Homo sapiens: one gene and its partner. The protein of the gene in region 1 purifies or fractionates together with the protein of each later gene. This does not show direct contact. Each region holds a gene or a part of one and is shown on either strand. Other genes may lie near its edges.

Region 1 (3,815 bases):
GAGCTCTCGTCTGTCTGTCTTGCCTGCACTGTGCCAAGAGGAAGAGTGAGGGGCTGCCTAGGCCCCAGAACTCACCTAACACCATGTTTGCCACATTCTATTGGTCAAAAAAGGCCCACCTAGATTCAGGGGTGGAGAGACAGGTGCTATCCTTGATAAGATGAGCTGTGAAGAATTTGAGGCCCTTTTAAATCTCTATCTCTGTATCTGACATGGCATAGTTTACTGTGGTGGAGGGAGAACCCAGTGTTTGTGTTTGTTTTCCAGTGATAGTGCTGACTTTTTTTCATTACTGCTTTTACATTTGGGTGATCTTCAGAAAATGATAGAAATGAAGAACTGCTACATTTCTTAAAGTTTAGCGTCTTCTAGTTTTATGTGTGAGATCTTTCTAATGTAATAGCATCTTGGGAGTTATCGCCTGCAAAACCCATCCTTTTAGTTCCAATGCATCACATAATTTTATGAACAAGCTAAATTATTTGCAGCATATATGAATATTCTTAAAACTAAATTGCTTTACGTGTGTAGAAAGATAAGCAAAAATAAAACACTGTACATATTTCGTTTTCCCTGTAGTTTATTTTCTTTAAACATTTTTTTCTGTGACTTCAAAATTCCCAGACACTTTACATTTTCACTTCAGGCATGAGTATTAAATGTCTGTGTGTTCTGCGCCAAGCCAGGGCTGGGAGCTGAAGATGAAGAGACACGATGCAACCCCCACCCCACAGCAGCCGGCCTCGAGGGGCACCAGACCTCGTCCTCCATGACCACACAGGGCCTGGGGTACCTGCCAGACGTACCCCAATGAAAGCGAACTGAGGTCTCCATCACCTTCGCTCTAGTTTGAGCTTATGGAACCCCAGCTGTAGGTCCCAAGCACAGTATCTTGAATTAATGAATCAATCCATTAATTAATGCAAATAATTTGCCCCTAAGGGGTTGCGAGAGGGTTTAAGCCAACTCCTGCCTGGAGGCACGTTGCTGGGGGAGGTGTGTGGTGGCCCCTGTGTCCTGGACTCTTGCCTGGTTTGAAATCGGCTCCGGCCCTCCAGGGGACCAGTCTTCTGTGGCCACGGCAGCAGGGAGGGGGCCCTCCATCCGTGACTGCCAAAGCGAGTCTCTGTGTTCTGTCTGGTTTCTGGAAACCTTGGCCTGCCCTGTAGGGTGAGTGGGCCACAGTGTGCTGGGAGGAACAAGCAGGTTTGGGGGATTCTGCTGTTGGGTGTGGTAAGAAGGCTGGGGGAGGAGGCGGGAAAGGATACCACCCTCTGATGGCCCCACTGGGTGGGCCGGGCCAGCAGGCAGCACACGGGGCAGCAGCTCTCACAGTCACAGCAGCCCCGCGGTTCAATGAGCAGATGACAGAAGGGGGCACCCATGGGTGCGGTGGGGCCTCAGACTCGAGACCTGCCCTGTGTTGTGAGCAACGATTCTGAAGCGCAGCTCCCGCAGGGTCCACTTGGGAAGATGTCAGGAGCCCTCGGTCTTCTGGGCCCGTCCGCGGCGCAGCCACGGCAGTTCAGGTGATGGCCCCACATGCCCATCTCTGATCTAGTTTTACCTGACTCAGTTTCCTTGAGAGCCCAGGGGCCCCAGCAGTGGGAGGACCTGTTCGGCTGACTTCCTTAGGCAGGTGGGGAAGAAAGGCCACCTGCCACTCACCAGGCCCAGGGCTATGCCTGACGCAGTAGAGGGCTCTAGAAAGGCCAGTCAGGTTTCTCTGTGTGAAGTTCCCAGTGGGGAGGGATTGTGCTGGAACCCTCCAAAGGAGCTTTATTTACTTAGACCTGGTGCTTCTTGGAGGAGGAAGTGCCTCTGGATTGATTGCCTCTAATAGTTTATGTTCTGAGCTCAAACGGGAAGGCAGGTGCGGTGAATGCGGCTGAGTCTCTGTGGGGTGCTGCAGTTGGGGTCCAGAGCTGAGTCTTGCCTGTACTCCGGTTTTATTTTAGCAGACATTTGCTAGACATTAAATCTCAAGAGAGTGTCAGGCGCGATGGCTCACGCCTGTAATCCCAACACTTTTGGAGGCTGAGGCGGGTGGATCACCTGAGGTCAGGAGGTCAAGACTAGCCTGGTCAACATGGTGAAACCTCGTCTCTACTAAATATATAGAATTAGCTGGTCATGGTGGTGGACGTCTGTAATCTCAGCTACTCAGGAGGCTGAGGCAGGAGAATCGCTTGAACCCGGAAGGCAGAAGTGGCAGTGAGCCGAGATCGCACACTGCACTCCAGCCTGGGTGACAGAGCGAGACTCCGTCTCAAAAAAAGAAAAAAAAAAGAAAAAAGAAAAAAAGAAAAAATCTCAAGAGACAAGATTTAACCTGTGAGGTGGCTGAATCCATATAATAAGATATTTTGCAATTTGGAATGTAACAAACTCATAAAAAATAACAGAATAAATGGGGTTGTACTGCTGAACTGCAGACAGCTGCACAGTATGCTGGTGAGAACATGGGCCACAAAGCTTGGGTTCTAATCTCAGCTCTACCACTTGCCAGCTGTGTGACCTTGGGCAAATTACTTAACCTCTCTGGGCCCCAGTTGCCTCTTCTTTACAATGGGGTAATACCACTATTCATTTCAGAGGATTTTTGTGAAGATTAATTGCAATAAAAGCACCTGAGAAGCATTAGCTCAGGGCCAGGCCCATAGTCAGTGTTTTAATAAATGCTGATGATGTTATTAATAGTACTGAGAACCCAAATGTTTCCTAACCAAAAGCATAAACTGAACCAGTACTTTTCAGGAATACAGTGAGCTGGTTTAAACCACGCGGAAGCCCCATGCTATCTAAAATCATCCCAAAACAACCAGTTTTAGTAAAGCCCAGCCCCACGCTGTAGGGAAACCCAGCCTTGTTATTCTCCTGCCTTCTTTATCCATGGGAAAACGAAGGCTGAGAGAGGCTTGGTGGCTTGGCCAAGGTCACACAGCGAGGAACCCCAGTCAGTGTGACCTTGGCTGTCAGGACGATGATGACTTACTGCCTCTATTGAAGTGGAATGGAATTTGATCATGAAAATGCTTTCCCATCCAAGTGGAAGTAGAACTGTGCAGTGGGGTTCATACATTCATTTATTCACAGGTGTTTACAGGGCATATTCAGCCGTGCCTGTATGTGTGTTTAAGCTTGGTGCGTAGGTTTAAATGACTCCCCCATGACCCCCGTCCCCCTCTGGGTAGTGTGGGCAGGGAGAAGTGTGGCGATCATCACATAACCTGTTCCACCAGCCCCCCGTCCAGCTCCGACGCCGGCCTGCGGTTCCCGGACAGCAACGGCCTCCTGCAGACCCCACGCTGGGACGAGCCGCAGCGGGTGTGCGCCCTGGAGCAGATTTGCGGCGTGTTCCGCGTGGACCTGGGCCACATGCGCTCCCTCCGCCTTTTCTTCAGGTAGGAAGCATCTCTGGGCGCCTCCTGGGAGTTGGCCTGTGTGTGTTTTCCCTGGCAGCCTGGGCTTTGCAGCCGGTGCAGTGCACGGCTTGGGGACACAGGGCCCTGGATGGAGTCTTCCCAAGCGTCTGCTTTCCTCCCTCGCTGATCTTGTGGGCAGTGATTCCCCACTGCAGCTCCCTGACAGTTCTCAGGCTGGGTGAGCTACCGAACTCACTCCCCTACCTTCAGCGTGATGGTAGCCAGCGGTTGCTTGCAACTCTGGCTTGGGAGAAGAAACCAAACCAGGGCAGAGGGTAGCAGCTGCCGGCGGCTCTGATCGCCGGGGGATGCTCTGGAGCTCGGCCACCTGTGCGGGACGGGCCGCAGCTTTCCGGATGGAGGCTCCCTTCCTTTCGTGATGGGTGGGCG
Region 2 (3,815 bases), about 31 Mb from region 1:
ATCTCTACAAAAAATTTAAAAATTAGCTGGGTGTGGTGGCACATGCCTGTGGTCCCAGCTACTTGAGAGGCTGAGGCGAGAAGATTACTTGATGCAAGGGGTTCAAGACTAGCCTGGGCAACATAGCAAGACCCTGTCTCTACAAACAATTTAAAAATTAGGCCGGGTGCAGTGGCTCATGCCTGTAATCCCAGCACTTTGGGAGGCCGAGGTGGGTGGATCACGAGGTCAGGAAATCGAGACCATTCTGGCTAACACAGTGGAACCCCGTCTCTACTAAAAATACAAAAAATTAGCTGGGCATGGTGGCACCCGCCTGTGGTCCCAGCCACTCGGGAGGCTGAGGCAGGAGAATTGCTTGAACCCGGGAGGGAGAGGTTGCAGTGAGCTGAGATTGTGCCACTGCACTCCAGCCTGGGTGACAGAGTGAGACTCCGTCTCAAAAAAATAATAATAATAATTAAAAAATTAGCTGGGTGTGGTGGAGCATGCCTATGGTCCTAGCTACTTGGGAGGCCAAGGTAGGAGGATTGATTGAGCCCAGAGCTGAAGGTTGCAGTGAGTCGGGATTGCACCACTGCACTCCAGCCTGGGTGACAGAGCAGCACTCTGTCTCCAAAAAAAAAAGTGACCCCCTTGCTATGTATTAATATATTTCTGGTAGAACTGATCTGCCCCCACTAGGCACTTTGCCTTGTCTTCCACTTATGGCTAAAATTGAGATAGTCATATATGGAGATCCCAGAAGTAGAACCATGTCAACCATAATGGGTTGATTTTCACATCCTTCAAGCTATGCCGCCTGGTCTAGGCCTAGATCACTTGCCCCAAAGGCTGGCCCTGTAATGGAGTGTGCTGAGGGGACAGAGCAACAGGACAGCAGAGACTGAGATGTGGAACCAAAGGCCTTTGAGAAGCTTTGGTTCCACCGTGCAAAAGGCCCCAGGAGATGGTAAGATGCCCTCCGTCTGAACTTCAGTGCTTCTGAGGGAAGGTCATATGTAAAAACTTCGGAGAACTCCACAACATAGAGCTGTGGAATTAAGGGATCTTTGCTGCTTGACTGTCTAAAGAAGAAGGCTAGAGATGTGAATCGTCTCCCTCCACCCTGCCACGCAAAGCTTACTGTGAGCAGATACTCTGACCTGGCCCCTTGTGACCAGTAGCTCACACTGCAGGAGGGCCTGCAAGGAAACATCCAGCCCATAGAGATCACCTTGGGTTCCTGTAAAAATGCATATTCCAGGGCCTTCTCCCAGAAATTCTGATTCAGTGGTCCTGGGTGGAGAGCCCAGGAATCTGCATTTTATGAAGCTCCTCTAGTTGATTCTGATAGTCCTCTCACCATGCTCAGAGAAGAGCTGGGCCTGATGTTTCCCCATTTCCCTGATGATGGGAATCATATGAGGGCCCTTGTTTAAGCCTGTAGTTTCTCAGGCCAAACCCCCTGGGAATTCTGGCATAAGAGGGCTGGGAAGGGGCCCTGGGAATTTGTCTTTTGAACAAGTCTTTTAAATATGGGTAATAGGTCAGGCACGGTGGCTCATGCCTGTAATCCCAGCACTTTGGGAGGCCGAGGTGGGCAGATCACTAGGTCAGGAGTTTGAGAACAGCCTAGCCAATATGGTGAAACCCCATCTCTACTAAAAATACAAAAAGTAGCCGGGCATGATGGCACGTGCCTGTAGTCCCAGCTACAGTTGTGGTGAGCCGAGATCACGCCACTGCGCTCCTGCCTGGGAGACAGAGCGAGACTCCATCTCAAAAACACAAAACAAAACAAAACAAAACAAAACAACAACAACAAAAACATACGGGTAATAAGTACTTGTCTTACATGTAGACCCAGGCCTGGGCAGAGGAGCCTGTTACAGCCAGCCCTGACCTGTGGGCCTGTTATTGGAGCAAAACTCTGATCCCTAAGGAGCTCCAACCCACTACCACTATCTTCAATTCTTGTGCCTCAGCCTCTTGAGTAGCTGGGGCTAAAGGCATGTGCCTCCATGCCCGGACAATTTTTGTATTTCTAGTAGATATAGGGTTTTGCCATGTTGGACAAGTTGTTCTCGAAATCCTGGCCTCAAGCAATTCACCCACCTCGGCCTCCCAAAATGCTAGGATTACAGATATGAGCCACCACACCCAGTCTGTTTCTACTATTTAAAAAAGGATGATGTAGCACATTACAATGAAAACTTGTATTCAGTAGGACTGTTAAATGAAATAATAATGATCAGAAGCCACACGAAGAAAGGGAAGAGATCATTATATGAAGAGGGTGTGATAAAGTGCTTCCTGCATTGACCGTTGAATTTAGCTCTGAACCTCTTAGCAGAAAAGGCCAGGCACAGCATCCTGTTTTGGTCCTTTTTGTCTGTCCAATCATACTAGAGAGTCTCTAGTGGCATGGACTATGTCTCTGCCATCAGATGGGGGTCTCCCTGAAGACAGGAACTTTATTCCTTCCCTCAAGATTGGGGGCTCCTCAAAGATTGGGACTGGTTCTGTTGGTTTCTCTCCCCACCCCCAAGCTCCAGGTACATCCCTGTGTACACTGGCCCTCACCCGCTTGGAGCTGTAGTGAGCTGGGAAACAGGGAGAACTTCCCCATCAGTTGAATCTTGGTGAATACCTCTGACATCAGATGCTGATTCTTCGTGTCACTTTTTAGCAACGTGGGCTAGATTCCCCAAGAAGCTCTGGTATTTTTTAGGCAGACAGGGTTTCAATATTTTCTCCTAGATGAGTAAAAATAAGTTTAGTAGTTCCTTAGGGAAGACTTCTTTCCCTGAAAGAGCAGTTTATCATGTGGCATCTTAGATCTTTTCTGCCATAATAAGCAATGGCTGAGGGCATGGCCATGTGTTAGTATTAGTCATGGTGCTGGGCATGGTGGCGAGTGCCTGTGGTCCCAGCTACTGGGGAGGCTGAGGCAGAAGGATTGCTTGAGTCCAGGAGTTCTGGGCTGTAATGCGCTACCCTGATCAAGTATCTGCACTAAGTTTGGCATCAGTATGGTGGCCTCCCAGGAGCTGGGGACCACCAGGTTGCCTAAGGAGGGGTAAACCAAGACAGAAATGGAGCAGGTCAAAACTCCCATGCTCATCAATAGTGGGATCACGCTGGTGAATATCCACTGCTCTCCAGCCTAGGCAACATAGCAAGACCCCATCTCTAAAAAAAGAAAAAATCAGGATGATAGATGGTGATAGTTACCCTTTTTTGCTAGCCGACTATAAAGGCGCCAGCACTCTTCTAGATAAATATTTTATCTAATTGAATTTCAATCACAGTTGTACACTTTATTTTTATTTTCTTTGGAGACAGTCTTGTTCTGTTGTCCAGGCTGGAGTGCAGTGGTAGGATCATGGCTCACTATAATCTCAAACTCCAGGGCTCAAACGATCCTCCTGCCTCAGCCTCCCATGTAGCTAGGACTACAGGTGCACATCATGATGTCCAGCTAATTTAAAAAGTATTTTTGTAGCACAGGGTCTCCCATGTTGCCCAGGCTCATCTTGAACTCCTGCCCTCAAACAATCCTCTTGCTTCAGCTTCCCAAAGCTCTGGGATTACAGACGTGAGTCATTGCACTTGGCCTTGAGCTTTAGAAAAGAAAAAAAAGCTGATACTCAAAGAGCATAAGGCTTAACATTCAGCAGGTCCCCCAGTTTTAATTGTCACAGCAAGGATTTGAGTCAGATGCTTCTGATTCTCAAGCCCCAAACTCTTGAAGCCATACTATCTGTCTGTTAAATGATACTTTTCATATTAGTCTTTAGTTAGAGCTGAGGTGACAATAAGTGGCTCTTCAG

The links.
Region 2: the proteins of TBC1D16 (region 1) and TTLL6 purify together in Homo sapiens (affinity purification with mass spectrometry; one large-scale study listed by BioGRID and IntAct). This does not show direct contact.

Annotation. Positions count from the first base shown.
Region 1 is NC_000017.11:79,952,246-79,956,060, reverse strand, and holds part of TBC1D16 (TBC1 domain family member 16), read left to right. Parts: intron 1-3,242; coding exon 3,243-3,404; intron 3,405-3,815. UniProt on the Homo sapiens protein: May act as a GTPase-activating protein for Rab family protein(s).
Region 2 is NC_000017.11:48,764,915-48,768,729, reverse strand, and holds part of TTLL6 (tubulin polyglutamylase TTLL6), read left to right. Parts: intron 1-2,882; exon of another isoform or gene 2,883-3,176; intron 3,177-3,815. UniProt on the Homo sapiens protein: Polyglutamylase which modifies both tubulin and non-tubulin proteins, generating alpha-linked polyglutamate side chains on the gamma-carboxyl group of specific glutamate residues of target proteins.